2 separate regions of the Homo sapiens genome follow, and region 1 is linked to region 2. Evidence: fine-mapped expression QTL. A gene starts in region 2. The other region holds a variant in brackets. All regions are shown on one strand. Distances are from middle to middle. Region 1 holds the start of GAPDH (glyceraldehyde-3-phosphate dehydrogenase). Region 2 holds the start of TAPBPL (TAP binding protein like).

Region 1 (11,185 bases), 83 kb after region 2:
TTTTTTAAAAAAAAAAAAGGCCGGGCACTGTGGCTCACGCCTGTAATCCCAGCACTTTGCGATACCAAGGCGGGTGGATAACCTGAGGTAGGGAGTTCGAGACCAGCCTGACCAACATGGAGAAACCCCATCTCTACTAAAAATAAAAAATTAGCCGGGCGTATTGGCGTGCGCCTGTAATCCCAGCTACTCAAGAGGCTGAGGCAGGAGAATCGCCTGAACCCAGAGGCGGAGGTTGTAGTGAGCCGAAATCACACCATTGCACTCCAGCTTGGGCAACAATAGCGAACCTCCATCTCAAATTAAAAAAAAAATGCCTACACGCTCTTTAAAATGCAAGGCTTTCTCTTAAATTAGCCTAACTGAACTGCGTTGAGCTGCTTCAACTTTGGAATATATGTTTGCCAATCTCCTTGTTTTCTAATGAATAAATGTTTTTATATACTTTTAGACATTTTTTCCTAAGCTTGTCTTTGTTTCATCTTTCACATTAGCCCAGTTTCATGCAGCAGAGAGAGGGTTATCAGTGCAGAGAGAGATGAGTGAGCCCAGAGTCCTAGGGCCTGTCCCGGGATGGCAGATGAGCTTCCTGCCCCGTCACTGCCACCTTTCCCCTCTCAACCTCTGGACCCTGCACAGTGACCAGACAGCCTCTCTGGGGAGAATTATGCAGTGCCTAGGCTCCAGATCAGTGCTTCTGAACCGGGGGCAATTTTGTCTGCCAGAGGACATCTGACAACACCTGGGGCCTGTTTTGTTGTCATAGCCTATAGGGGAAGAATGCTACCAGCATTTGTGGGAAGAGGCCAGGGATGTGGCTCAACATCCTGCAGTGCACAGGATGGCCCCTCAACAAAGAATCACACGGCCCACAATGTCAATAGCGTCACAGTTGAGAAAACCTGCTCTAGACCAAGGGTTGCTTTCTGCCGTGTGCCTCACCCCACCCCCACTCGTGTTCCCTAATCCCATCTCCAAAGGTTGGCAGCAGACCGGCCCAGGCTCGTGGAAGTTCAGATCATGATCCCCTCCAGCTCTGCAGGAGACAAGACCTGTCTCCCAGCATTCCTCATTGTTCCCGGGTCTGCAGAGGGCGTGAGCTATGCTGCAGGCGGGCTGCCCCCTGAAGCCTGCGCACCCCTCTCCAGCTCCTCAAGTCTTCTCTGCTGAGTCACCTTCGAACCGGAGGCTGTGAGCTGGCTGTCGTGACCACACTGGTGCCTCTGCTGTCATGACAACAGCACACTACGTCAGTAGTGCTCCCTGGGCACTGAGCTCCCTCTTTGCGGGGAGAAGACAGTAATGAAAAATGACAAGCATGAGGCAGAGGGGAAGATCACGCTTGGGTGGTGCAGGAGCATGGAGGTGCTCTTAATGCTCTCAATGAGAAAGGGTTAACGGTCCTGGTTGCAGGAATAGCTGAGTCAGAGGTGGGGCTTCCTCCACTCCCCCACCCCACCCCTTTCACCATTAGGGACCTTCTTGCCTTGCTCTTGCTACTCTGCTCTGGGTGGTCATTGTGAAAAGCCCGCACCAACCATGCCAGTGGCAGCCAGACGAGGACACAGCCTGGCTCTGGGTCCCAGCAGGAAAGGCAATCCCAGAAAGGCAGGGTCAGGGACTGGAGTCCTGTGGGTGCTTTTTAAGCAAAGATTATCACCAGGCAGGCTAAACTTAGCAACCGGCTTTTAGCTAGAAGGGCAGGGGGCTGGTGTCAGGTTATGCTGGGCCAGCAAAGAGGCCCGGGATCCCCCTCCCATGCACCTGCTGATGGGCCAAGGCCACCCCACCCCACCCCCTTCCTTACAAGTGTTCAGCACCCTCCCATCCCACACTCACAAACCTGGCCCTCTGCCCTCCTACCAGAAGAATGGATCCCCTGTGGGAGGGGGCAGGGGACCTGTTCCCACCGTGTGCCCAAGACCTCTTTTCCCACTTTTTCCCTCTTCTTGACTCACCCTGCCCTCAATATCCCCCGGCGCAGCCAGTGAAAGGGAGTCCCTGGCTCCTGGCTCGCCTGCACGTCCCAGGGCGGGGAGGGACTTCCGCCCTCACGTCCCGCTCTTCGCCCCAGGCTGGATGGAATGAAAGGCACACTGTCTCTCTCCCTAGGCAGCACAGCCCACAGGTTTCCAGGAGTGCCTTTGTGGGAGGCCTCTGGGCCCCCACCAGCCATCCTGTCCTCCGCCTGGGGCCCCAGCCCGGAGAGAGCCGCTGGTGCACACAGGGCCGGGATTGTCTGCCCTAATTATCAGGTCCAGGCTACAGGGCTGCAGGACATCGTGACCTTCCGTGCAGAAACCTCCCCCTCCCCCTCAAGCCGCCTCCCGAGCCTCCTTCCTCTCCAGGCCCCCAGTGCCCAGTGCCCAGTGCCCAGCCCAGGCCTCGGTCCCAGAGATGCCAGGAGCCAGGAGATGGGGAGGGGGAAGTGGGGGCTGGGAAGGAACCACGGGCCCCCGCCCGAGGCCCATGGGCCCCTCCTAGGCCTTTGCCTGAGCAGTCCGGTGTCACTACCGCAGAGCCTCGAGGAGAAGTTCCCCAACTTTCCCGCCTCTCAGCCTTTGAAAGAAAGAAAGGGGAGGGGGCAGGCCGCGTGCAGCCGCGAGCGGTGCTGGGCTCCGGCTCCAATTCCCCATCTCAGTCGTTCCCAAAGTCCTCCTGTTTCATCCAAGCGTGTAAGGGTCCCCGTCCTTGACTCCCTAGTGTCCTGCTGCCCACAGTCCAGTCCTGGGAACCAGCACCGATCACCTCCCATCGGGCCAATCTCAGTCCCTTCCCCCCTACGTCGGGGCCCACACGCTCGGTGCGTGCCCAGTTGAACCAGGCGGCTGCGGAAAAAAAAAAGCGGGGAGAAAGTAGGGCCCGGCTACTAGCGGTTTTACGGGCGCACGTAGCTCAGGCCTCAAGACCTTGGGCTGGGACTGGCTGAGCCTGGCGGGAGGCGGGGTCCGAGTCACCGCCTGCCGCCGCGCCCCCGGTTTCTATAAATTGAGCCCGCAGCCTCCCGCTTCGCTCTCTGCTCCTCCTGTTCGACAGTCAGCCGCATCTTCTTTTGCGTCGCCAGGTGAAGACGGGCGGAGAGAAACCCGGGAGGCTAGGGACGGCCTGAAGGCGGCAGGGGCGGGCGCAGGCCGGATGTGTTCGCGCCGCTGCGGGGTGGGCCCGGGCGGCCTCCGCATTGCAGGGGCGGGCGGAGGACGTGATGCGGCGCGGGCTGGGCATGGAGGCCTGGTGGGGGAGGGGAGGGGAGGCGTGTGTGTCGGCCGGGGCCACTAGGCGCTCACTGTTCTCTCCCTCCGCGCAGCCGAGCCACATCGCTCAGACACCATGGGGAAGGTGAAGGTCGGAGTCAACGGGTGAGTTCGCGGGTGGCTGGGGGGCCCTGGGCTGCGACCGCCCCCGAACCGCGTCTACGAGCCTTGCGGGCTCCGGGTCTTTGCAGTCGTATGGGGGCAGGGTAGCTGTTCCCCGCAAGGAGAGCTCAAGGTCAGCGCTCGGACCTGGCGGAGCCCCGCACCCAGGCTGTGGCGCCCTGTGCAGCTCCGCCCTTGCGGCGCCATCTGCCCGGAGCCTCCTTCCCCTAGTCCCCAGAAACAGGAGGTCCCTACTCCCGCCCGAGATCCCGACCCGGACCCCTAGGTGGGGGACGCTTTCTTTCCTTTCGCGCTCTGCGGGGTCACGTGTCGCAGAGGAGCCCCTCCCCCACGGCCTCCGGCACCGCAGGCCCCGGGATGCTAGTGCGCAGCGGGTGCATCCCTGTCCGGATGCTGCGCCTGCGGTAGAGCGGCCGCCATGTTGCAACCGGGAAGGAAATGAATGGGCAGCCGTTAGGAAAGCCTGCCGGTGACTAACCCTGCGCTCCTGCCTCGATGGGTGGAGTCGCGTGTGGCGGGGAAGTCAGGTGGAGCGAGGCTAGCTGGCCCGATTTCTCCTCCGGGTGATGCTTTTCCTAGATTATTCTCTGGTAAATCAAAGAAGTGGGTTTATGGAGGTCCTCTTGTGTCCCCTCCCCGCAGAGGTGTGGTGGCTGTGGCATGGTGCCAAGCCGGGAGAAGCTGAGTCATGGGTAGTTGGAAAAGGACATTTCCACCGCAAAATGGCCCCTCTGGTGGTGGCCCCTTCCTGCAGCGCCGGCTCACCTCACGGCCCCGCCCTTCCCCTGCCAGCCTAGCGTTGACCCGACCCCAAAGGCCAGGCTGTAAATGTCACCGGGAGGATTGGGTGTCTGGGCGCCTCGGGGAACCTGCCCTTCTCCCCATTCCGTCTTCCGGAAACCAGATCTCCCACCGCACCCTGGTCTGAGGTTAAATATAGCTGCTGACCTTTCTGTAGCTGGGGGCCTGGGCTGGGGCTCTCTCCCATCCCTTCTCCCCACACACATGCACTTACCTGTGCTCCCACTCCTGATTTCTGGAAAAGAGCTAGGAAGGACAGGCAACTTGGCAAATCAAAGCCCTGGGACTAGGGGGTTAAAATACAGCTTCCCCTCTTCCCACCCGCCCCAGTCTCTGTCCCTTTTGTAGGAGGGACTTAGAGAAGGGGTGGGCTTGCCCTGTCCAGTTAATTTCTGACCTTTACTCCTGCCCTTTGAGTTTGATGATGCTGAGTGTACAAGCGTTTTCTCCCTAAAGGGTGCAGCTGAGCTAGGCAGCAGCAAGCATTCCTGGGGTGGCATAGTGGGGTGGTGAATACCATGTACAAAGCTTGTGCCCAGACTGTGGGTGGCAGTGCCCCACATGGCCGCTTCTCCTGGAAGGGCTTCGTATGACTGGGGGTGTTGGGCAGCCCTGGAGCCTTCAGTTGCAGCCATGCCTTAAGCCAGGCCAGCCTGGCAGGGAAGCTCAAGGGAGATAAAATTCAACCTCTTGGGCCCTCCTGGGGGTAAGGAGATGC[T/C]GCATTCGCCCTCTTAATGGGGAGGTGGCCTAGGGCTGCTCACATATTCTGGAGGAGCCTCCCCTCCTCATGCCTTCTTGCCTCTTGTCTCTTAGATTTGGTCGTATTGGGCGCCTGGTCACCAGGGCTGCTTTTAACTCTGGTAAAGTGGATATTGTTGCCATCAATGACCCCTTCATTGACCTCAACTACATGGTGAGTGCTACATGGTGAGCCCCAAAGCTGGTGTGGGAGGAGCCACCTGGCTGATGGGCAGCCCCTTCATACCCTCACGTATTCCCCCAGGTTTACATGTTCCAATATGATTCCACCCATGGCAAATTCCATGGCACCGTCAAGGCTGAGAACGGGAAGCTTGTCATCAATGGAAATCCCATCACCATCTTCCAGGAGTGAGTGGAAGACAGAATGGAAGAAATGTGCTTTGGGGAGGCAACTAGGATGGTGTGGCTCCCTTGGGTATATGGTAACCTTGTGTCCCTCAATATGGTCCTGTCCCCATCTCCCCCCCACCCCCATAGGCGAGATCCCTCCAAAATCAAGTGGGGCGATGCTGGCGCTGAGTACGTCGTGGAGTCCACTGGCGTCTTCACCACCATGGAGAAGGCTGGGGTGAGTGCAGGAGGGCCCGCGGGAGGGGAAGCTGACTCAGCCCTGCAAAGGCAGGACCCGGGTTCATAACTGTCTGCTTCTCTGCTGTAGGCTCATTTGCAGGGGGGAGCCAAAAGGGTCATCATCTCTGCCCCCTCTGCTGATGCCCCCATGTTCGTCATGGGTGTGAACCATGAGAAGTATGACAACAGCCTCAAGATCATCAGGTGAGGAAGGCAGGGCCCGTGGAGAAGCGGCCAGCCTGGCACCCTATGGACACGCTCCCCTGACTTGCGCCCCGCTCCCTCTTTCTTTGCAGCAATGCCTCCTGCACCACCAACTGCTTAGCACCCCTGGCCAAGGTCATCCATGACAACTTTGGTATCGTGGAAGGACTCATGGTATGAGAGCTGGGGAATGGGACTGAGGCTCCCACCTTTCTCATCCAAGACTGGCTCCTCCCTGCCGGGGCTGCGTGCAACCCTGGGGTTGGGGGTTCTGGGGACTGGCTTTCCCATAATTTCCTTTCAAGGTGGGGAGGGAGGTAGAGGGGTGATGTGGGGAGTACGCTGCAGGGCCTCACTCCTTTTGCAGACCACAGTCCATGCCATCACTGCCACCCAGAAGACTGTGGATGGCCCCTCCGGGAAACTGTGGCGTGATGGCCGCGGGGCTCTCCAGAACATCATCCCTGCCTCTACTGGCGCTGCCAAGGCTGTGGGCAAGGTCATCCCTGAGCTGAACGGGAAGCTCACTGGCATGGCCTTCCGTGTCCCCACTGCCAACGTGTCAGTGGTGGACCTGACCTGCCGTCTAGAAAAACCTGCCAAATATGATGACATCAAGAAGGTGGTGAAGCAGGCGTCGGAGGGCCCCCTCAAGGGCATCCTGGGCTACACTGAGCACCAGGTGGTCTCCTCTGACTTCAACAGCGACACCCACTCCTCCACCTTTGACGCTGGGGCTGGCATTGCCCTCAACGACCACTTTGTCAAGCTCATTTCCTGGTATGTGGCTGGGGCCAGAGACTGGCTCTTAAAAAGTGCAGGGTCTGGCGCCCTCTGGTGGCTGGCTCAGAAAAAGGGCCCTGACAACTCTTTTCATCTTCTAGGTATGACAACGAATTTGGCTACAGCAACAGGGTGGTGGACCTCATGGCCCACATGGCCTCCAAGGAGTAAGACCCCTGGACCACCAGCCCCAGCAAGAGCACAAGAGGAAGAGAGAGACCCTCACTGCTGGGGAGTCCCTGCCACACTCAGTCCCCCACCACACTGAATCTCCCCTCCTCACAGTTGCCATGTAGACCCCTTGAAGAGGGGAGGGGCCTAGGGAGCCGCACCTTGTCATGTACCATCAATAAAGTACCCTGTGCTCAACCAGTTACTTGTCCTGTCTTATTCTAGGGTCTGGGGCAGAGGGGAGGGAAGCTGGGCTTGTGTCAAGGTGAGACATTCTTGCTGGGGAGGGACCTGGTATGTTCTCCTCAGACTGAGGGTAGGGCCTCCAAACAGCCTTGCTTGCTTCGAGAACCATTTGCTTCCCGCTCAGACGTCTTGAGTGCTACAGGAAGCTGGCACCACTACTTCAGAGAACAAGGCCTTTTCCTCTCCTCGCTCCAGTCCTAGGCTATCTGCTGTTGGCCAAACATGGAAGAAGCTATTCTGTGGGCAGCCCCAGGGAGGCTGACAGGTGGAGGAAGTCAGGGCTCGCACTGGGCTCTGACGCTGACTGGTTAGTGGAGCTCAGCCTGGAGCTGAGCTGCAGCGGGCAATTCCAGCTTGGCCTCCGCAGCTGTGAGGTCTTGAGCACGTGCTCTATTGCTTTCTGTGCCCTCGTGTCTTATCTGAGGACATCGTGGCCAGCCCCTAAGGTCTTCAAGCAGGATTCATCTAGGTAAACCAAGTACCTAAAACCATGCCCAAGGCGGTAAGGACTATATAATGTTTAAAAATCGGTAAAAATGCCCACCTCGCATAGTTTTGAGGAAGATGAACTGAGATGTGTCAGGGTGACTTATTTCCATCATCGTCCTTAGGGGAACTTGGGTAGGGGCAAGGCGTGTAGCTGGGACCTAGGTCCAGACCCCTGGCTCTGCCACTGAACGGCTCAGTTGCTTTGGGCAGTTACTCCCGGGCCTCACTTTGCACGTGTGCTTACCTAGTGGAGACAAAAGTACATACCTCGGTAGAGCGCGCACGCCTGTAACCCCAGCACTTTGGGAGGCCAAGGTGGGTGTATCACCTGAGGTCAGGAGTTTGAGACCAGCCTGGCCAACATGGTGAAACTCCGTCTCTACTAAAATTACAAAAATCAGCCAGGCTTCATGGCACATGCCTATAGTCCCAGCTACAGGCATGCTGAAGCAGGAGAATCGCTTGCACCCCGGAGGCAGAGGCTGCAGTGAGCTGAGACCACACCACTGCACTCCAGCCTAGGCAACAGAGTATGAGACTCCATCTCAAAAAAAAAAAAAGTACCTACCTCAGAGTTCAAACTAGTGAATATTAGGAAGTGCTTGAGACAGTGACACCAAAGTGCACAATAAATACTCGCCAGTTTCATTATTATTAAAGAATCCATTTGAATGTCAGCTCAACACAGCCTCCTATACCGAGGCATTGTGAACCGCATCTCCCCAGCTTCTCCAGGCTTTTCCAAGAATCAGGGACACTGTAGCCTGTTGGTCTCAGTGTATGACAGACACGGAGGAAGCACATCTTTAGCTGATACTTAAACAGAGACCCTGAGCGCACATACACCCGCGCACACATGCATGGAGCTTCACCTTCTCTGTCATTCTGCAGTGACCAGGAGAGCAAGAGCTCCCACCTCCCTTCAAAACACTGTGCCCATCCCGGGCACTAAGGCCTCTTTAAAGCACGGCACCTCCACGAGGGAGGGCCACAGCCACATACACTCCACCTGGCAGGTGGACAGCGTGAGCACGTGGACCATAGCAGGGACAAGGTGCCCCGGCCAGCCCCAACGCCCTCTGCCGCTGACAGGGACAGAAGCCCTCTCCAGCTGCGTGTGCTGCAGAGGCCATGCGTAGCCTCCAGCTGCATTCTATTCCACTCCAGTGCCTGGGCCAGTTAGCACCAGTGTGGAAGACAGTGAGCTGGCTCCGGACAACAGGGATGGAGGAAAGGTCCCACATTCACATTCCTGATACGTGGACAAGGTGAGGGGCCGCAATCGCTCTGGCAGCATTTTAAAGATGGGGAAGTAGCAGACACCCACGCGTGAAGGCAGGAGAGCCCCAACTGTGGTGGAAATGGCCCCAGAATGGTAGGGCCAAGCCTAGCTCCAGACACCCCAGAGCCCTGGAGAAGCCAAGACTGAGGGAGAAAGCCTGAGGGAGGAGCGCCCCAGTCCCCAGGGACCGGCCTGGTGCAGAGCTGCAGCTGATGTTCCCCTCTGTGCAGCCCCACCCTCTGCCTCGCTGAGCTCCCTGCTGCGAGGGCCTCGGGTGCAAGGGGGAGGCAGGTCTCTATCTCATGGAGCTGTCAGATGAGACATCGCGATCGGAGTCCTCAGCCTCGCTTGGCGGCGGCGGCGGGTCGCTAAGCGGGACCGCAGTGAAAGCAGGAGACTTTCTAGAAAAAAACACCAGTTGTCAACCTTGGGGCAGGCAGGAATCCTGAAGACGGACGGCACTCCTCCTCCTGCTGCCTCACCCTCTGGCAGCCCGTGAGAAGTACCGGAAGCGAGGGCGGGGCCGCGGGATGGCGAGGGAGCGGCAGGGACTGAACTCTCTCCAAACCCACCCTGACAGGGAAATGGGCCCCGCCTGTGTCTTGGGAACTCAGAGGCTGAGGTCAGGCATGATGGCTCACGCCTGTAATTCCAGCACTTTGGGAGGCAGAGGCGGGTGGATCACGACGTCAGGAGTTCAAGGCAAGCCTGGCCAACATGGTGAAACCCCATCTCTACTAAAAATGCAAAAATTAGCCAGGTGTGGTGGCGGGCGCCTTGGAGGCTGAGGCAAGATAATCACTTGAACCTGGGAGGCGGAGGTTGTAGTGAGCCAAAAAAAAAAAAAAAAGAAATAGCTGAAGTCACAGTAGGAGAGAAGCTGCTGAGCCTCCAGCACCCTGACTCTAGGGCCTTGGCTTTATGTCTATCTGCAGTATTTTTGTGATTTTTAAAAATTCACTTTCTTGTTGCGGTGTAACTTACACAGGGTCAAATGCACAAATCATGGCCCTGACTTTAGATAAAAATCTGCCCCCACAACCCTTCTGTTCCTTGCCAGTTTTTAAACTGCCTCTAACCAGGGGAACCACCAGAGCTGGTGGCCTTGGGAGGTTTCAGCCCTCCCGTCATGAATGGACATAGCTCATCCAACTGCCAAGGGAGAGAGCTGTGGGTCTGGGCCAGCCCCACCAGGTAACTCCCAAAGGGCAGCCCCACAGCAAGATGTGACCCAGTCATTGCCTGAGGGTCTCTGGGGCTGTGTTCCAACCTTTCTCCCCGCTGTGTCCCCCTGGAAGGCCCCATGCCCAGGGGAGGCGCCTACCGGTCTCCAGACTGGGTGATGAGCCGGCGGCAGGTCTCCATCTGCACGTCCAGGCCGCGCTTCATGCTGCACATCTCCATGTACTCGTGCAGGTGCCGGTTCATGTCGTTCTTGGCCGTGGCCAACTCCAGCTGTGGTGGGGCAGGCAGGGCCATCGGGGTTAACAGGTGGCGTTCACAGCGCCTCTGTTGCCCCCGCCAGGAGGCCAACACGCCAAGAGCAGTGGCTGGGCCGGGGGCCCAGGCAGCCATTACTGAAGGCTCAGATTTTAAAATAAACCAGACCAAGGCAGAAGGCAGCGAATACACCATTGTTTCCTCTGCTTTTCCTGGAAATCTTTGCCTATGGAGGAATGCAAAGGTACTGCTGCAGGCTGTGTTCTTTTAAGACTGATAAGAGTGGTGAGGAAAGTCAGTGTGGGCGGGATGGAGCAGATCCACAGGCTCCCAGGGCCACACAGGTTCCTATGGGGCCCGGCTCACCCCTCATCCCCTGTACTGCGCTGGTCCTGGGCTGTCCCCTCACTGCACTGTGAGCTCCCGTAAGGGTTAGCGACAGGTTTTCCTCATCCTGGCAGACCCAGACCTCGAAGGGAATTAACTCTCTCTGTGACCCGTGGCATACAAGCCTGGCTAACTGCTGAAAGGGGCCCAATCCTCTTACCATTCTCTCCTTATCACTTTATTTTCTCACCTAAAAGCCATTTTCAGACACTAAAAGGAAGACTCCCATATTGGAGGTGCCATTGATTCTGAGACCTGTCCTGATTTCAGAAATGTCACACGTGGAAAACACGGGGCTCAGAATCAAAGAAATCCGGTCTCCCTCCCCGGGCCCATTCTGCAGCCCACACTCTGAGGCAGGCGGAGAGGCAGGGCCCAGGCAGCACAAACTCAGTGCCAGGGACAGTCGACTGCCTCTCTTTGTTTTGGGTACAAAGGGCAGGGGCCGCAAGGGGAAGCAAAATGAAACTTCCTGGAGATGACGTTCGTGACTGCCTGAGTGAAGAGAACGGGGAGGATACCAGCTGCCATAATGTGGATTGGACAGAGAGGGTGGGAACTTAGAGAAAGAAGGAAACAGGTTACAGGGCCAGACAGCAGAGATGGTCAGGACAGTGACATTTGGGGTGAGATGGCGGCTGGCTGGGTGAGAAGCCCTAGTGGGGACAGCTTCCCT
Region 2 (10,109 bases):
CAGCTACTAGGGAGGCTGAGGCAGGAGAATCACTTGAACTCAGGAGGCGGAGGTTGCACTGAGCCGAGATCGTGCCACTGCACTCCAACCTGGGCGACAAAGCAAGACTCTGTCAAAAAACAAACAAACAAAATAAAGGCTAAGTAACTGTAATCAAGTAACTATTTATTATTTATTTATTTTAGTGTATCCACAGGTTGTGCAGCCATCAACACTATCTAATTCTATAACATTTTCGTTACCCCAGAGAAACTTGTACCCCTTAGCAATGACTCCCCATTTCTTCCCCCCAACCAACCCCAGCCCCAGCCCCAGCCCCTGGGAATCCCTAATATACTTTGTTTTGTTTTTTGTTGGTGGTGTTTGAGACAGGATCTCACTCTGTCACCCAGGCTGGAGCGCAGTATCATGATCTCAGCTCACTGTAACCTCCACCTCCCGGGCTCAAGCGATCCTCCCACCTCAGCCTCCCCAGTAGCTTGGGCCTACAGGTGTGCACCACCACACCCAGCTAATTTTTGTATTTTTTGTAGAGACGGGGTTTCACCATGTTGGCCAGGCTGGTCTCAAACTCCTGAGCTCAAGCAATCCACCCACCTCAACCTCCCAAAGTGCTGGGATTACAGGCGTAAGCCACTGCACCTGGCTATTTTCTTTCTTTCTTTTCTTTTTTTTTTTTTTTTGAGACGGAGTTTCACTCTGTTGCCCAGGCTGGAGTGCAGTGGCGTGATCTCGGCTCACTGCAACTTCCACCTCCCGGGTTCAAGCAATTCCCTGCCTCACCCGGCTATTTTATATTTGTTGATCTGCTGCTGGTTATGCCTGTGAGCCAAATTTGTACAAATTCTTAAGCTTTACAATCATGCGTGCCTCTCTGTACGTATATTATACTTTAATTAAAAGTTATTAAAGTATTGGGGCCGAGCACAGTGGCTCACGCCTGTAATCCCAACACTTTGGGAGGCTGAGGCTGGTGCATCACCTGAGGTCAGGAGTTTAATACCAGCCTGGCCAATACAGTAAAACCCCGTCTCTACTAAAAATACAAAAAATTAGCCGGGTGTGGTGGCACACACCTGTAATCCCAGCTACTTGGGAGGCTGAGGCAGGAGAATTGCTTGAACCCGGGAGGCAGAGGTTGCAACGAGCCAAGGTCACGCCATTGCACTCCAGCCTCGGCAACAAGAGCGAGACTCCATCTCAAAAAAATAAATAAAAAATAAAAAATGTATCAGGGAGTACAAGAGAAAGTCATATAAGCTCTTTCTACTTTTCATGGTTTCTATGTCTGAACCCATGAATCTTCCTTCTGAAAGGTCCAACTTTCTTCTTTAATAACAATAATAATGGCAAAGGCATTGGGGGACCGTGAGCAAAGGGCAGGCCTTTGCAGGGGTGGGAATGGAAAGGGAAGCACGTCCCTAGAGGTGGGCCTGGGATGGGGGTTGGGGGATGAAGCAAGTGGACCTTGAAGGTCTCCACAGGTCTGAGTGTCCTATGCTCCCTGGGCCTCTCTTCCCCCAGGTCTTCTCGTTCGCAACTGCACCATCACTGCCAATGCTGAGTGTGCCTGTCGCAATGGCTGGCAGTGCAGGGACAAGGAGTGCACCGAGTGTGATCCTCTTCCAAACCCTTCGCTGACCGCTCGGTCGTCTCAGGCCCTGAGCCCACACCCTCAGCCCACCCACTTACCTTATGTCAGTGGTAAGTTCCAGGCAACTCTCTGTGCCATCACGTGGGGTAGCGGTGATACCCCAACCAGTACTCCCCACTCCTACCCCTAGATAAGGTCAGCCTGTTTCTGCCTTCCCATCCCATCCAGCACCTCTCAGGCCTTCAGATGTGCCCTATGGGGTCCCCTGCTGCTACTCATTCTGTCTCTGTTTTTCCAGAGATGCTGGAGGCCAGGACAGCTGGGCACATGCAGACTCTGGCTGACTTCAGGCAGCTGCCTGCCCGGACTCTCTCTACCCACTGGCCACGTGAGTTTTCTCCTTAATCCCCACCGCTAGAGAGAATGCATACACGAGGGGCCAGGAGGGAAGCCAGACAGAAAGCTCCTAGGATTAGGGATAAGAGGAGGGGAAAAAGCAGAGTCCACTGTTTAGGAGAGGAGTTGGCCAACGGTGGCGGGTGGGATAGAATAAGGTGGGGGAAAGGGGAGAGGCAAGGTGACAGGAGGGCTGGGCTGAGGGAGCCAAGGGCTAGACCCTCCCCTAACCCCTGTGTGTCCCCTCCTATTACAGCCCAAAGATCCCTGTGCAGCTCCGATTTTATTCGCATCCTTGTGATCTTCTCTGGAATGTTCCTTGTTTTCACCCTGGCCGGGGCCCTGTTCCTCCATCAACGAAGGAAATATAGATCAAGTAAGAGACAGAACACAGGCCTCCGGTCCTGCCCCTGCACCACACCCCACTGGCTCAACCCCACTGCCCACGCCTGGAATCTCACTGAAACCCACCAGCTCCACTTCACCAGCCTTGGTCCTACCCCTTCTCTCCCCTTAGCTGGCGTGCTCCTGACACCCCTCCCCCAAGCGCACCCGCCTCTACCCATCTCCTTCTCCCGTCTCCCCCTGCCCCCACTGCTGGCCAAGACTCATCGGATCTCCTTCTGCAGACAAAGGAGAAAGTCCTGTGGAGCCTGCAGAGCCTTGTCATTACAGCTGCCCCAGGGAGGAGGAGGGCAGCACCATCCCCATCCAGGAGGATTACCGAAAACCGGAGCCTGCCTGCTCCCCCTGAGCCAGCACCTGCGGGAGCTGCACTACAGCCCTGGCCTCCACCCCCACCCCGCCGACCATCCAAGGGAGAGTGAGACCTGGCAGCCACAACTGCAGTCCCATCCTCTTGTCAGGGCCCTTTCCTGTGTACACGTGACAGAGTGCCTTTTCGAGACTGGCAGGGACGAGGACAAATATGGATGAGGTGGAGAGTGGGAAGCAGGAGCCCAGCCAGCTGCGCCTGCGCTGCAGGAGGGCGGGGGCTCTGGTTGTAAAACACACTTCCTGCTGCGAAAGACCCACATGCTACAAGACGGGCAAAATAAAGTGACAGATGACCACCCTGCAGCTCTCCAGCTTCCTCTCTGAAATCCCAGTCCCAAAATCCAGTTTCCTGGCCGCCTCCTGGCTCAGGTCAGGATCTGGCAGAGGAGGTTTCTCAGCCGGTTATGTTGGGGCCTGCTTAAGGGCGGGGGTGAGAAAGGTCCCCAGGCTACTGTGGATCCTGTGTCTGACTTCAGATCCCCTTTTCCCACAGTTATAGCTCCACTTTTTTGGGACAGGTGGGGAGCAAAAGGGTGCAGAGGTCAGGTCTTGAAATCACCAGGGGATTTCCGGGTGAGGTGGGTGGTGAGAAAGGAAACAGCAAGCAGGGCTCTGGCAGCTGCTGCAGACGGCTTCACACAGGGACGCGGGCTGCCATCTTGCTCTAAGTGAAAGTGAAAGAAAAGTCGGCAGCAGAGGGAACAGGGAAGAAACCTAAAGGCTGCAGGCTGCCAGGTGTGCTTGGAGAGCCCCCTTCTTCCGCCGGGCCTCGCAAGCAGCGTAGGACTGTGGAGAAGGGCGGTGGGCAAGGAGGGAACTCGAGAGCAGCCTCCATGGGCACACAGGAGGGCTGGTGCCTGCTGCTCTGCCTGGCTCTATCTGGAGCAGCAGAAACCAGTGAGTCTGGGAGTCGGGGAGAGCTGGCTGGGAGAAGAGCTACTGAAGCCCCAGGGTGCCACCCTCCCCGAGATTCCAGAAGAGCAAAGGGGCCGGGGATGACCCCATCGCCTTCTAAGCCCAACAGGGGAAAGGCTCAGCGGCTGGCAAAGGAAGGAACCAATAGTGTGTGTGGAGGGAGGGTGGGGACTCCACAGGGAAAATGCTAAAGAGGGGCTGCCTCTGTGGCTGTGGTCAGGAGCCACTGTCCTACAGAGAGGGCACTGGCCTGGGAGCTGACACTTCAGAAGAGGAAAGGACTCCCCAGGTGAGGAAATCACTTGGAAGGTGACCTTGAAGGCGGGGGAGGGGAAGGCTACCCGAAATGGGAGAAAGCAGTGCAGGCTGTCAGTGCCCCAGCAACAGTAACTGTCCAGTCTCCTCTCTCTGCGGTGGCACTTGCTTGTTTTCTGAGAATTCCTTTGACTGAAAAGATAGTCTTTTATTCAACAGTTGGAAATGCAAGCATAAACTCCTCTGAGCAAGGCAAATCCAGGACTTTAACTCTCACCAAGAAGTATTTGCCTGGACTAGCAGGTGCTCTCCAGAAAGCTGGTTTGGGGATGACGGGAGAATAGAGGGACACAGAAACAGCTAGGATCTTGGATGGCAACTTTTACCCTTTGATGACTCCACAGCTTGAGGGCGGGGGCAGGAAGCAAGTGTGGAGTAGCTTTCTGGGGAAGGCGGTGCTCACCCCAGCCTTTGTCTGCAGAGCCCCACCCAGCAGAGGGGCAGTGGCGGGCAGTGGACGTGGTCCTAGACTGCTTCCTGGCGAAGGACGGTGCGCACCGTGGAGCTCTCGCCAGCAGTGAGGACAGGGCAAGGGCCTCCCTTGTGCTGAAGCAGGTGCCAGTGCTGGACGATGGCTCCCTGGAGGACTTCACCGATTTCCAAGGGGGCACACTGGCCCAAGATGACCCACCTATTATCTTTGAGGCCTCAGGTAAAAGCCTTCCACCTGTGTCCTTGGTCCTCCCGGGCTCCCTCCACCAGGACAGCCCAGGTCCCGATTACAGCCACACATACTGCCTCCCGTTGGCCCTGGTGTTCTCACGCTAATTTGCCCTCTGTGTGTGCCCTGCTTCTCCCCAGTGGACCTGGTCCAGATTCCCCAGGCCGAGGCCTTGCTCCATGCTGACTGCAGTGGGAAGGAGGTGACCTGTGAGATCTCCCGCTACTTTCTCCAGATGACAGAGACCACTGTTAAGACAGCAGCTTGGTTCATGGCCAACATGCAGGTCTCTGGAGGGGGACCTAGCATCTCCTTGGTGATGAAGACTCCCAGGGTCACCAAGAATGAGGCGCTCTGGCACCCGACGCTGAACTTGCCACTGAGCCCCCAGGGGACTGTGCGAACTGCAGGTAAGAAAATGAAAAGCAAGGCCAGGTGTGGTGGCTCACGCCTGTAATTCCAGAATTTTGGGATACCGAGGTCGGTGGATCACCTGAGGTCAGGAGTTTGAGATCAGCCTGGTCAACACGGTGAAACCCCGTCTCTACTAATACCAAAATTAGCCGGGCATGGTGGCGGGTGCCTGTAATCCCAGCTACGAGGGAGGCTGAGGCAGGAGAATCGCTTGAACCCGGAAGGCAGAGGTTGCGGTGAGCCGAGATCACACCATGGCACTTCAGCCTGGGCAACAAGAGCGAAACTCCATCTCAAAAAAAAAAAAGAAAAGAAAAGAAAAGCAAGTCACAGAAAGTTTTGCTTTTCTAAAGTGGTAAGATATGGGGCACAGAAGAAGAAAGGGAACAAATCCACCTCCATCCACACTGGTCACCTCAGGGCACCCCTAGGCCTTGGTCCTTTCTTCCTAAAAACCCCTGAGTCAGGCCAGGTGCGAAGGCCCATGCCTGTAATCCCAGCACTTTGGGAGGCCAAGGCAGGTGGATCACCTGAGGTCAGGAGTTCAAGACCAGCCTGGCCAACATGGTGAAACCCCCTCTCTACTAAAATACAGAAATTAGCCGGGCATGATGGCAGGTGCCTGTAATCCCAGCTACTCAGGAGACTGAGACGGGAGAATCACTTGAACCTGAGAGACGGTGGTTGCAGTGAGCCGAGATTGCGCCACTGCACTCCAGCCTGGGCAGCTGAGTGAGACACCGTCTCAAAAACAACAACAACAACAAAAACCCTGAGTCCACAAGAGAATGCTTCGCAGCCCCTACCTGAACGTCCCCAGGCACACAGACAACCTGTGTTATTTCCAAAATGGAGATCGTTCTCATCTCACTGGGCTGCCATGAGGAAATAAGACACATGATGCTATTCTGTACATGGGTGCTGTCCACTGTAGTCTTATCGAGCCAAAACCCGGTTTTCTCCCAGTGAAATGCTAGGCTGCTCTGGTGCTTCAGGGGTAAAGCTCAGGGATGCATCATTTGTTCATGATCTTATTAGTAAACCCAGTACTTGCCCTCTCCAGCTCAGCACATCCTCGAGGGCACAAGAAATTGAGAACATGATGACAGGGTTCCCCAGAGCCCATTAATCCAATACTCTGTGCCCTGCTTCTTTGAGTCTCCAAGAAGAAACAGCCAAGTCCAGAGAAAATTAGGGGCAACCGTCCTATCCTTGGAAAACCCCAGAACACTCTAACCTCTCTGTGGTCCAACCTAAATCTATCCTGACCCATTAGAAAAAGGTCTTCATGTCTGTCCAGTGTCTACCATACTCCTGGCATGCGTAGGTATTTCTCTCTTTTTATTCCAAACCTACAAAAAAAGGTGAAATAATAATATAATGAACACCTATATACCCTACACCTAGATCCACCAGTTGTTAACAATTTGCCACATTCTCTCTCCCCCGACTCCTCATGTGTGTATATGTGTACGTGTGTATTTTCCTCTGAACTGAGAGTAAGTTGCAGAAGATAACACTTGAACCCCAAACGCATGTTTGAACCCCGAAACGCATGTTTAAACCCCAAATACATCCATAGCATGTATTAGTTTACAATGAAGGACAAGGATGTAATCCTTCATAGTTACAAAGCCATCATGTCAGAAACAAACCAAAGTGGGGAAGTAGTCTACCCGTAGCGCAGGCAATAAGGGAGTGCAGACTGTAAAATATTTCAGAACAAAAATAAAATCAGCTAAAAGTCAGATGGCTTTATAGTCTCACCATCTCCCGACACTGGCAATTCTGAATATTATCAGTGATAAAATACTCCTCTCTGCTAGGGCAGACTGTCCCTATCTCCCCACACGACTGCCTAGTATGCCACAGATCTTCATACTTTTAGATATTTTTTAATTGATATGATAATAGTCTCAACTATAAAGTCCAGGGCATGGTGGTGCACACCTGTAGTCCAGCTACTCAGGAGACTGAGGCAGGAGGATTGCTTGAGCCCAGGAGTTTGAGTCCTGTCTGGGCAACATAGAGAGCGAGACCCTCTTTTTTTTTTTTTTTTTTTAACAGTCTCATTCTGTCTCCCAGGCTGGAGTGCAGTGGCATGATCTTGGCTCACTGCAACCTCTGCCTCCCAGGTTCAAGTGATTCTTGTGCCTCAGTCTCCCAAGTAGCTGGGATTATAGACGCCCGCCACCACACCAGCTAATTTTTGTATTTTTAGTAGAGATGGGGTTTCACCATATTGGCCAGGCTGGTCTTGAACTCCTGACCTCAGGTGATCCACCCATCTCGGCCTCCCAAAGTGTTGGGATTACAGGCGTGAGCCACTGTGCCCAACCTAAGACCCTTCTCTTTAAAAAATAATTAAATGTCTCCAAATTCAAATTTCTCCACTTGTCCCAATATTTTTTTTTTTACTGCTTTTTCTAAGTACACAATTCAAACAAGAATCATGCAGTGCATTTAGTTGTGCTGTTCCTTGTTTTAATCTAGAACATGTTTCATAGAATTGACATTTTTGAAGGGTCCAGGCTAGTGGTCTTGTAGAGTATCCCAACATTTAGATTTGTCTGATTGTTTTCCTCATTTCCTCATGACTGGATTTAGGTTAAGCATGTTTGGCACAGATACTACTATCACATGCTTTTTTTTTTTTTTTTCGATATGGAGTTTTACTCTTATTGCCCAGGCTGGAGTGCAATGGCTCGATCTTGGCTCACCACAACCTCCGCCTCCTGGGTTCAAGTGATTCTCCACCTGAGCCTCCCAAGTAGCTGGGATTACAGGCATGCGCCACGACACCCAGCTAATTTTTGTATTTTTAGTAGAGACGGGGTTTCTCCATGTTGGTCAGGCTGGTCTCAAACTCCCAACCTCAGGTGATCCACCCGCCTGGGCTTCCCAATACCACGTGTGTTTTTTTGTTTTGTTTTGTTTTTTACATTTTTTTTGAGACGGAGTTTCACTCGTCGCCCAGACTGGAGTGCAATGGCGCGATCTTGGCTCACTGCAACCTCCACCTCCCGGATTCAAGCAATTCTCCTGTCTCAGCCTCCCAAGTAGCTGGAATTACAGGCACCTGCCACCATGCCCGGCTAATTTTTGTGTTTTTAGTAGAGACAGGGTTTTACCATGTTGGCCAGGCTGGTCTCAAACTCCTGACCTCAGGTGATCCACCCACCTCGGCCCCCCAAAGTGCTGGGATTACCGGCATGAGCCACCGCACCCAGCCACCACGTACTTTTTAAACTATTGTTTCTAGTCTTCACAGCATCCTTGCTTAAGCAGGTGAGCTTGGTAACACCAAGTGACTTGTCAAAGGTCACGGAGCCAGTAAGTGGAACAACCAGGGTTTCAGAGCTTTTTCTGCTACTCTAGTAGTTCTTACCTGAAGATTGATGGTAACTCTTAATTTTGCATGTGTATTTTTCCTGGTGGGAGATCCATAGCTTTCACTAAATTATCCTAGAGTAAGTGATCCCAAAATGGTGATGGCCATCATGTGTACCATGCTACCTTTCCAGAGCCCCATTTCTTTGTGGTTCCATGTGATGGAAAATAAGCTCAACCGGCCTGTCAGGCGAGGAAGAGGCAGGTGTATGCCCACAACATGCCCACAGCTTGGAGATCAGGTGACCTCAAGGAGGAAGTAGCCCACAAATCACCCCTCTTTTCCTCTTCACAGTGGAGTTCCAGGTGATGACACAGACCCAATCCCTGAGCTTCCTGCTGGGGTCCTCAGCCTCCTTGGACTGTGGCTTCTCCATGGCACCGGGCTTGGACCTCATCAGTGTGGAGTGGCGACTGCAGCACAAGGGCAGGGGTCAGTTGGTGTACAGCTGGACCGCAGGGCAGGGGCAGGCTGTGCGGAAGGGCGCTACCCTGGAGCCTGCACAACTGGGCATGGCCAGGGATGCCTCCCTCACCCTGCCCGGCCTCACTATACAGGACGAGGGGACCTACATTTGCCAGATCACCACCTCTCTGTACCGAGCTCAGCAGATCATCCAGCTCAACATCCAAGGTGAGGCCAGGACATGGTTATCCCAGGGAAGGGGATATAACATGTCTACTGGGAGCGTTTCCAGATTGGGACCCAAATGCAAGAATGATTTCCTGAGAAGCAGGCTTCAATCCCACAACTTAAATGCCATCTTCACCATGGAAGCACAGATGGCATCAGATAAGGAGTCCCGTTGGACTCCAGGATAATTCCACCAAGAGATTTCCAGCCCAGGATCCTGCTGCCCTGCTGTGGCTGGCTGTCTCCATCACCCCAGTCCTTTTGGACCACATCCTGAGGAGCAGCAGCAGCAAACCAAGGCAGAGCAGTGGAAGCGGTTCTGACCATTATCACTGCTATCCTTTAAAATCTCTGGCTTAGAGGCCGGGCGCGGTGGCTCACACCTATAATCCCAGCACTTTGGGAGGCGGATCACGAGGTCAGGAGTTCAAGACCAGCCTGGCCAATACGGTGAAACTCCGTCTCTACTAAAAATACAAAAAATAGCTAGGCATGGTGGTGCGCGCCTGTAGTCCCAGCTACTCAGGAGGCTGAGGCAGAAGAATCGCTTGAACCCCGGAGGTGGAGGTTGCGGTGAGCCAAGATCATGCCACTGCACTCCAGCTTGGGCGACAGAGCAAGACACCATCTTAAAAAAAAAAAAAAAACTGGCTTAGAATGACAGTAAGAAGCCAGCCAATCTTTAGTTGGCTTTACTATCTGTTTTCTGGAAAATGTAACCCTGCCCCCTTACGGCCTGCATCCAGGTGGGCCCCTCACACACCCCCGCCTTGGTACACCACCAAGGGACACTGTAGCCTCCACAATCTACTCTCATCTTGGCAGGAAGAAAAGGCTTCAGGCTCCTCCGCTGTCCCCAGTTAGATCCATGTGTAATCTTATTCCTCATTCTTTCTCCAGCTTCCCCTAAAGTACGACTGAGCTTGGCAAACGAAGCTCTGCTGCCCACCCTCATCTGCGACATTGCTGGCTATTACCCTCTGGATGTGGTGGTGACGTGGACCCGAGAGGAG

Evidence for each region. PIP is the estimated chance that this variant, and not a neighbour inherited with it, causes the effect.
Region 1: its variant is fine-mapped to the expression of TAPBPL in blood mononuclear cells (TOPMed, PIP above 0.99).

The regions. Positions count from the first base shown.
Region 1 is chr12:6,531,506-6,542,690 of GRCh38, forward strand. It overlaps GAPDH (glyceraldehyde-3-phosphate dehydrogenase), which reads left to right and starts at 3,012. Exons shown (of 9, transcript NM_002046.7): 1 at 3,012-3,064; 2 at 3,305-3,356; 3 at 4,989-5,088; 4 at 5,179-5,285; 5 at 5,415-5,505; 6 at 5,596-5,711; 7 at 5,804-5,885; 8 at 6,079-6,491; 9 at 6,596-6,866. The coding sequence starts at 3,328. The coding sequence ends at 6,665. It overlaps IFFO1 (intermediate filament family orphan 1), which reads right to left. Exons shown (of 10, transcript NM_001193457.2): 9 at 10,007-10,137; 10 at 8,034-9,083. The coding sequence ends at 8,978. It overlaps GAPDH-DT (GAPDH divergent transcript), which reads right to left and starts at 2,902. Exons shown (of 2, transcript XR_002957397.2): 1 at 1,959-2,902; 2 at 411-1,638. NCAPD2 (non-SMC condensin I complex subunit D2) reads left to right here. Exons shown (of 32, transcript NM_014865.4): 32 at 1-450. RefSeq lists enhancers at 1,154-1,283, 1,244-2,017, 2,018-2,791, 2,792-3,565, 5,114-5,887 and 3 more and silencers at 2,194-2,443, 3,164-3,303. The variant T/C (reference allele first, on the strand shown) is at 4,894.
Region 2 is chr12:6,448,649-6,458,757 of GRCh38, forward strand. TAPBPL (TAP binding protein like) reads left to right here and starts at 3,394. Exons shown (of 7, transcript NM_018009.5): 1 at 3,394-3,664; 2 at 4,419-4,649; 3 at 4,799-5,068; 4 at 8,758-9,096; 5 at 9,997-10,109. The coding sequence starts at 3,601. It overlaps CD27 (CD27 molecule), which reads left to right. Exons shown (of 6, transcript NM_001242.5): 3 at 1,525-1,704; 4 at 1,893-1,982; 5 at 2,247-2,366; 6 at 2,620-3,065. The coding sequence ends at 2,744. It overlaps CD27-AS1 (CD27 antisense RNA 1), which reads right to left and starts at 2,869. Exons shown (of 6, transcript NR_015382.2): 1 at 1,693-2,869; 2 at 1-89. RefSeq lists enhancers at 2,204-2,413, 2,504-2,663, 3,094-3,693.